Homo sapiens: one gene and its partner. The protein of the gene in region 2 purifies or fractionates together with the protein of the main gene of each other region. This does not show direct contact. Each region holds a gene or a part of one and is shown on either strand. Other genes may lie near its edges. The genes, in order: SEPTIN2 and PTGES3L-AARSD1.

Evidence for each region.
Region 1: the proteins of PTGES3L-AARSD1 (region 2) and SEPTIN2 fractionate together in Homo sapiens (co-fractionation; one large-scale study listed by BioGRID). This does not show direct contact.

What each region holds. Positions count from the first base shown.
Region 1 is NC_000002.12:241,350,170-241,353,987, forward strand, and holds part of SEPTIN2 (septin-2), read left to right. Parts: coding exon 1-5; 3' UTR 6-34; intron 35-1,773; exon of another isoform or gene 1,774-1,797; 3' UTR 1,798-3,818.
Region 2 is NC_000017.11:42,963,507-42,967,324, forward strand, and holds part of PTGES3L-AARSD1 (PTGES3L-AARSD1 protein), read right to left. Parts: intron 949-3,818; exon of another isoform or gene 935-948; coding exon of another isoform or gene 896-934; intron 732-895; coding exon 600-731; intron 1-599. Other genes in the region: alanyl-tRNA editing protein Aarsd1, read right to left, coding at 600-731, 896-934. UniProt on the Homo sapiens protein: Functions in trans to edit the amino acid moiety from incorrectly charged tRNA(Ala).

The DNA of each region.
Region 1 (3,818 bases), on a different chromosome or scaffold from region 2:
TGTAAGGTGATGTGCACATATCAAGAAGTCAGAGGTAGGCCCTGTTGTCCCTTAGCCTGGAAGACAGGCAGTTACTAACATTGTGTCAGCTTAAATATGACAGGTTCCTCCTTAAGCCTCATTAATATTTTGCATTTTGAAGTAACTCCATCACTAATCTTAAACAAGGAGAGATTGCTCCTGAAAAACAGAAGCCACTACTTTGCCACCTACTTTCTAGTAAAGATTTTTCATATTTTTGTCTCTTCTTTTTTTTTTAAATAATTTCAACTTTTATTTTATTGGGGTACATTTGCAGGTTATTTTCTAAGCTTGCAAATACCAACATTAGAAGGAAATTATGTATTAAAGCACTTTTATTAGTTGTATTATTGGAAATTTGTTAATTGTTAAAACATCTCTTTAAAGGGAATAAAAACGTGTTATTAAAACAGCTTGTACAGATTAAAAGTAGAGATGGCACAAGGAAGAAGAATTATGTGAGGTAGATAAGGGTTCCCTGGATGGTGACTGCTGACCTCCTGTTCCTCAGATAGCTTTGTCCCGACTGATGGTCATTAGTGAATAGATCTGTCTGGCATGGTGTATGCTGGTCTGCCTGCTTGAAAAGAATCTGCAGACTCCAGAGACTCAGGACCAGGAAAAGGCAGATGCCCACTCCCCTGTATCTTATGTATCTTATGGACAGGCAGGCTCTCTGAACTGTCCAGGTGGCCACTCCCATCACTTGCCAGAGGAAAAGCATGAAAGGTAAAGTTAAGTAATGACCTAAGAGTCCAAAGAAGAGGGTAGGTCACATGGAGCTGGGGTAAAGGCAAACAAACCTCATACAAGAGATCTGATTAGAGCTTGAAAGAGAGTTTGAGTTGGCCAAGATCTGAGGATGAAACGCTGGGAATTTGGTAGAAGGTCTCTACTACAATTCAGGGACCTCATTCTGGAAGCATGAGTGTGTTCATGAAAACAGGGAGGGGACTTGAGCCTTCAACGACATACGGCAGGGTGGGTTAGGCAGAAGGCAGGGAGTCTTGAGGCCTCCACAGCATGTGGACAGGTGGCTGAGGAAGGACCCAGAGTGACTTGCTGGAGCCTTAGTCACCAAACGCTCTTGCAGCTTAGTGGGAAAGGTGTTCATTGTAAAATACGGTATTTACACAAAATGCACAAAAATACGTATGTACAGTTTAATAAGTTACTGTAAGGAAAACATCCATGTCACCCCCAACTGAGTCCAAGTTGGTTGCTTTAGTTTCATCATCACAGTGACACCTTAGAATAGTCCTGAGGGTATGTGCTTAGTTCACACTTTACTGATGAGGAAATTGTTGCCGCTCCGAGAGTTTAAAAGTATTTGCTGATGGTGCCATGACTTTTAAACGATGGCCTGCTGACTCTAGAGGCTGGTCCTGCATAACCAGTTAATGGCATGTGACTGGGGAAGTGAGGGTACAGTGGAAAGAGACAAGGATGCCTCAGCGATGCAGCTCATTTGAAGCAGGAAGCAGTGACAGGTGTTTGCTTATTTTCTCTGAGCTTCATTTTCAACCTTTATGGAATGAAAATTTTACTTTTAGATCGATAAAATTTTATTTCTGTATACTTTCTAGTTTTGCAGCATTTCCAGTTTCCAGGAGCCTCATGAATGGCTTTTTGGTTTAGTTAACTTTGTGGTCATGTAAGCCCTGCCTTTTGCTCAGTTTATGACCTTTGTTAAGGAGAAAAGTAGAACTGTTAATAATTAACGCAGCAGACATTGCCTCACTCCCACTTAAGTGTGTTTTGTTTTCTTTTTTCTAGAAAACACTTTCCTGGATAAAAAAGAAAACATTCCAGATGCATGATCCAGCTGTGTGTTTTCAATCCTTGGGAGGGTGCCATCCACATTTTAACAGTACCTGTGCCTGAGAATTTAATTTTTAAAAGACTTTGATGTGTTTTTGTATGAAGTACTTTTAACGTATGTATTTCATTGCTGTGTCACACTCTGTGTTTTGTGAGGTGAATGTCTTCCTTTTCTTTCTCCCTAACCACTAATGTTAGAATTGATTTCCAAGAATCGGCATGTATACTTAATACTGAATTTCTTTGATTTAACTGACTTAACAACTGACTAACCATTGATGAGCACTCCTGATTTTTATCTAGAACATTCAGATTTACCATAATGTTCCTTAGTGGTAGAGGTGTGTGCCTAGTGATGTAGAAAGATACACTGACTTGGTGCAAGGCCATCTGCTTACCACATCACACCACTTGGAGATCTTTGCTTCCTTGCTTTTATGTTTGTACACAACACCTAAAACCAGTTTTGCTGCTATAATTCTATACTGTTGATTCGTCTGCGATTTTATCTGTTAACCAAATAAAACATAATAGAATTTCCTAATGAGATATATCTTTATACTTAAACAGCTTTTTTAGAGGTGAGTTTTAAAGAAGTCTCTTAATTCTGATGCTAGGTTGTTTTTAAAACCACTATGCAAAGAACTCACCACAAGCCACCTTTTGTAGTGTTCTCCACTAATACTGGTTATCCTGTGCTACAGAGAAAATCAAAGCAGTCATAAGCTCCAGTTTTCGTATTGCAAATAAGACTCTTACCTACAAAATGAGATTCAGTGAACTAATTTGGTTTTTACTCAACCAAATTAAAAATTTTTTTAAGGAAAATTAGCAGTTGGTCTATTCAGAATCAAACCTTTTTATATTTTATACTGCACTTTAGTGTATTTTCTGTCACTGTAGGTATAGAAGATCTGCCTCCCCTGTGGAAATTGGGGTCTGTTGGTGGGCGTGCCCCTGAAGCCTGGCTTGGGTTGAAAAGTGTTCCCGCCCTAAGGCCTTGGTGCCCTGAACCTCTGATGCCTACCGGGTTCTCCTGATTTGAGTTTCCTTTAAATACTCCCTTTTTGAGTAATTTTCTGATGGGAGGAAAGTAGCAGTCATCATCTTTTTGTGTGCAGGCTGTCTCATTTATTTTTAGCCATTGTCGTTTCATTCATTTTGTGTAATATAAACCGTGTGTCATGTCAAAGTGAAAGACATTTCAAATCTGTAGCATAGGCTAGTGGGCAGGTCCGCACAGTCGAAGCCACACCTGGTCTGTTTTCTGTGCACTGTAGCCTTAGTGTCACCTTTCTTCTTGTGTCTCCTTATGGTACACTCCAGCGGTTGCCTTTTTTATCATTTCTACTGAAGTTGGGAAATTCAACCCCAGAAATTGACAGATGAAAGGAGACAATGGTTGTGTAGGGAGATGGAGAAAATGCTTAATCTGAGGATGAGACAGGGTTTTTTCATTTTTGTGGGGGCTAGAAAAAACATAAAATGAGGCAGTTAAATAATAATAGTTAATGAAGGTGTGCTACAGAAAATAATCTGGTGTTCTTGCTAACTTTGCCCTTCACTGTTGCTTAATTGTGAACAGCCAAAAGCTATATGTTATGGCTTATTGTGTGAAGGTAACTAAGAAGTGGTGTTCCATGACTTCAGAGTACATCCATGCGGAGTCCATTATTTGAGTTTGACATTTAATAACTTTGCTGGAAAATCTGTAAAAAAGAAAAACAAGTTTGCTAGTGACTAAGCCCCGCATATGTGAGTGAAAGTACTTCAGGCACGCTGCCTCCTGGTAACAGCTATGCAGGGAGGGAGGACCCACACTGCTACACTTCTGATCCCCTTTGGTTTTACTACCCAAATCTAAATAGATACTTTTGATAATAGATAACTGCTCTTTTACTAAGACATAGTCTCTACCTATAGAAATGTATTTTGAAAACACTTATTTTACACAGCAATTTTGTATCCATTTAAAC
Region 2 (3,818 bases):
TCACTTGCGCTCATGTTGTACCTAGTCCTCATCACAGCACTGATAAATATGCTCTCTGCTGTACTACTGTAACCCGTCTATCTCACCTGAACTCCTTCAGGAACATCTTTTTCAGTCCCTAAAACCCGAAGCTAATTCCTTCCTTGGGGCCTTTGCACCTGCTATTCTACCTGCCTGAATACTCCCTCTGCCCCCCAGCACCACTAGATAATTGCAAAGACTCACCCCCTCACTTCGTTTAGGTCTCTACTGAAATAACTTACCCTTCATCTAGACAAGCATCCCATCACTCTCTTTCCCTTTACTTGGTTTTTGTTTATTACTTATTATACCTAGCACACACAGTTGTCTTCAATAAACATTCCACGTATATAAAGGCACTGTGTTGTTCACCGGTTATCCTTACAGCCTGGAATAATATCTAGCATATGTTATGTCTAGATAAGCAATTGCTGATAAATACTCATTAAATGAATAACAAAATGAATTAAACTAAAGCTCATCTGAATTCATTATGGCTGAGAAAAAAGGGGCAGGAGAGCATTTCGGCCTGAGCACAAAGAAACTGGGGGCTTCCTGGGAAGAGATCGTTTTGGTACCTGTCCCCCGCCCTCAGGGAAAAGCACTGTGTCTTCCAGCACCACTTGGAAACCGCTCAGCACTTCTTTCTTGCCGTTGCTCCCTTCAGTCTGCAGCTCCGCGGGACAGCAGGAGACCACGGTGGTGGTGAACTGAACAGAGAGGAATGAGAGAATAAGCCCCGACCCCAGCCCTAGCCCTAGCCCTCTCCACACCAGGACAGAATGCCATGTTGGCACTCCCTACACGTGGCGCCCTCTTCCCCAAACCGCCTTGCCGGCCCGGCAGTCTCAAGTGCCTCGCCGTGACGCCGTACCTCTCGGGCATAACTGTCACGCTGACACCAGAACGCCATACCTGCAGGCGTGTGAGGAGGCGCACGCGCAGAGAAGCCTGGGAGCGAACGGAGAGCGACGTGGGACAAACGTCATCAAGGGCGCTTGTCTGCGCAGAAGCAGGAGGGTAAGGAATGGAATGCGGTTTGGATAAATTTACTGAAAACGCGAATTGCATATTTGCTGGGTTGTTTAACGACTGTTCTAAGGCTTTACAAAGGACAAGACCAGGAGGAAAAAAACAAACAAACAAAAACAAAAAAACGCGACCTGGACAAGGCACGTGGTTTAGTGAGCCCCTTGGGGCCCCAGGGATGTAAGTATTCTGGCTGCGGAATCCCAGCGCATAGAGGCGGGGACGGGACTGGCATGGTTACTGAGCAGCACTGCCCAGTAGAAATAGAAAGCAAGGAGCTGGGGGAGGTGGCTCACGCCTGTAATCCCAGCATTTTGGGAGGTCGAGGCGGGTGGATCACCTCAGGCCAGGAGTTCGAGACCAGCCTGGCCAACATAGCGAAACTCCGTCTCTACTAAAAATACAAAAATTAGCCGGGCGTGGTGGCGGGCGCCTGTAATCCCAGCTACCCGGGAGGCTGAGGCAGGAGAATCGCTGGAACCCGGGAGGCGGGGTTGCAGTGAGCAGAGATTGCACCACTGCACTCCAGCCTGGGCGACAGAGCGAGACTCCGTCTCAATTAAAAAAAAAAAAAAAAAAAAAAAAAAAGGCCGAGCGCGGTGACTCACGCCTGTAATCCCAGCACTTTGGGAGGCCGAGGCGGGCGGATCACGAGGTCAGGATATCGAGACCATCCTGACTAACGCGGTGAAATCCCGTCTCTACTAAAAATACAAAAAATTAGCCGGGCGTGGTGGCGGACGCCTGTAGTCCCAGCTACTCCGGAGGCTGAGGCAGGAGAATGGCGTGAACCTGGGAGGCGGAGCTTGCAGTGAGCCGAGATCGCACCATTGCACTCCAGCCTGGGCGACAGAGCGAGACTCCGTCTCAAAAAAAAAAAAAAAAAAAAAAAAGAAGAACAATTTGGCCAGCGTGGCCAACATGGTGAAACCCTGTTTCTACTAAAAACACAAAAACATTAGCCAGGCGTGGTGGCACACGCCTATATAATCCCAGCTACACGGGAGGCTGAGGCAGGAGAATCACTTTAACCCGAGAGGAGGAGGTTGCAGTGAGCCGAAATCGTACCACTGCACTCCAGCCTGGGTAACCCAGCGAGACTACGTCTCAAGAAAATTACATTACATTACATTAAAATAGTTTGGGCCAGACACAGTGGCTCACATCTGTAATCCCAGCAGTTTGGGAGGCCGAGGTGCCTGGATCAGCTGAGGCCAGAAGTTCGATACCAGCCTGGCCAACATGGCAAAACCCTGTGTCTACTAAAAATACAAAAATTAGCTCGGTGTGGTGGCGGGCACCTACAGGCTGGGATTACATCCCAGCTTCTAAGGAGGCTGAAGCAGGAGAATCGCTTGAACCTGGCAGGCGGAGGTTGCCGTGAACTGAGATCGCGATACTGCACTCCAGCCTGGCTGACAAAGCGAGACTTCGTCTCAAAAAAAAAAAAAAAAAAAAAAAAAAAAAAAGCAAATTAAACCAGGTGCTAATTTTTATCTTGTCAAATATCTGAAACGATTTAGAGAATGGAACACTCTCATTGTTCGTAGGAGTGAGAATTGGTACAATTTCATCAAAGAGCAACTTGGTAACAGCTATCAAAATGTTTAAATGTATTTTATCTACTCCTTGACCTAGCAATTCTACTTCTAGAAATGTACCCTACAGATATCCTGGCAAAAATATGTAAAGATCCACATTTTTAAATGTTGATTGCAATATTGTTTGCAAATGGTAAAAGACTGCCGGACGCGGTGGCTCATGCCTGTAATCCCGGCACTTTGGGAGGCCGAGGCAGGTGGATCACCTGAGGTCAGGAGTTCTAGACCAGCCTGGCCAACGTGGTAAAACCCCGTCTCTACTAAAAATACAAAAATTAGCTGGGCCTGGTGGCAGGCGCCTGTAATCCCAGCTACTAGGGGAGCCGAGGCAAGAGAATCGCTTGAACCCGGGATGCGGAGGTTGCAGTGAGCTGAGACCACGCCGTCGCATTCCAGCCTGGGGGACAAGAGCGAGACTTCGTCTCAAAAAAAAAGAATATGGTAAAAGACTAACGACCTACGTGTCCCTCAATAAAGAACCTGTGAAATTATGAAAAATACATTCAATGGAATACCATATAGCCATGAAAAAAATGAGTTAGATCTATATGTTCTGACTTGTAAAGATCTCCAATATATATTAAATGAAAAAGGGCACAATGCAAGATGCGGATGGTATGATTCCAGTTGTGTACACACACAGACACACACAACACATCTGCTAATTAAGTTTTAACATACTGCATGTAAGTAATATATACTATATGTTTATGTTCCATGTTATATATTGTTTTGTATGTTATATAATTATACCTTAGAACTACATAGTATAAAATAAATTATAGGTATTATAGTATTTATAATGCAGTATGGGGCCAGGGATGGTGGCTCAGGCCTGTAATCCCAGCACTTTGGGAGGCCGAGGAAGGAGGCTTAAGGCCAGGAGTTTGAGAGCAGCCTGGGCAACAAGCAAATCTTTACAAAAAAATAGTTTGTCCTAAAGACAAGGTCTTTACATATATATAAAATATATATTATATAATATATAATATAATATATAAAATATATATTATATAATATATAATATAATATATAAAATATATATTATATAATATATAATATAATATATAAAATATATATTATATAATATATAATATAATATATAAAATATATATTATATAATATATAATATAATATATAAAATATATATTATATAATATATAATAT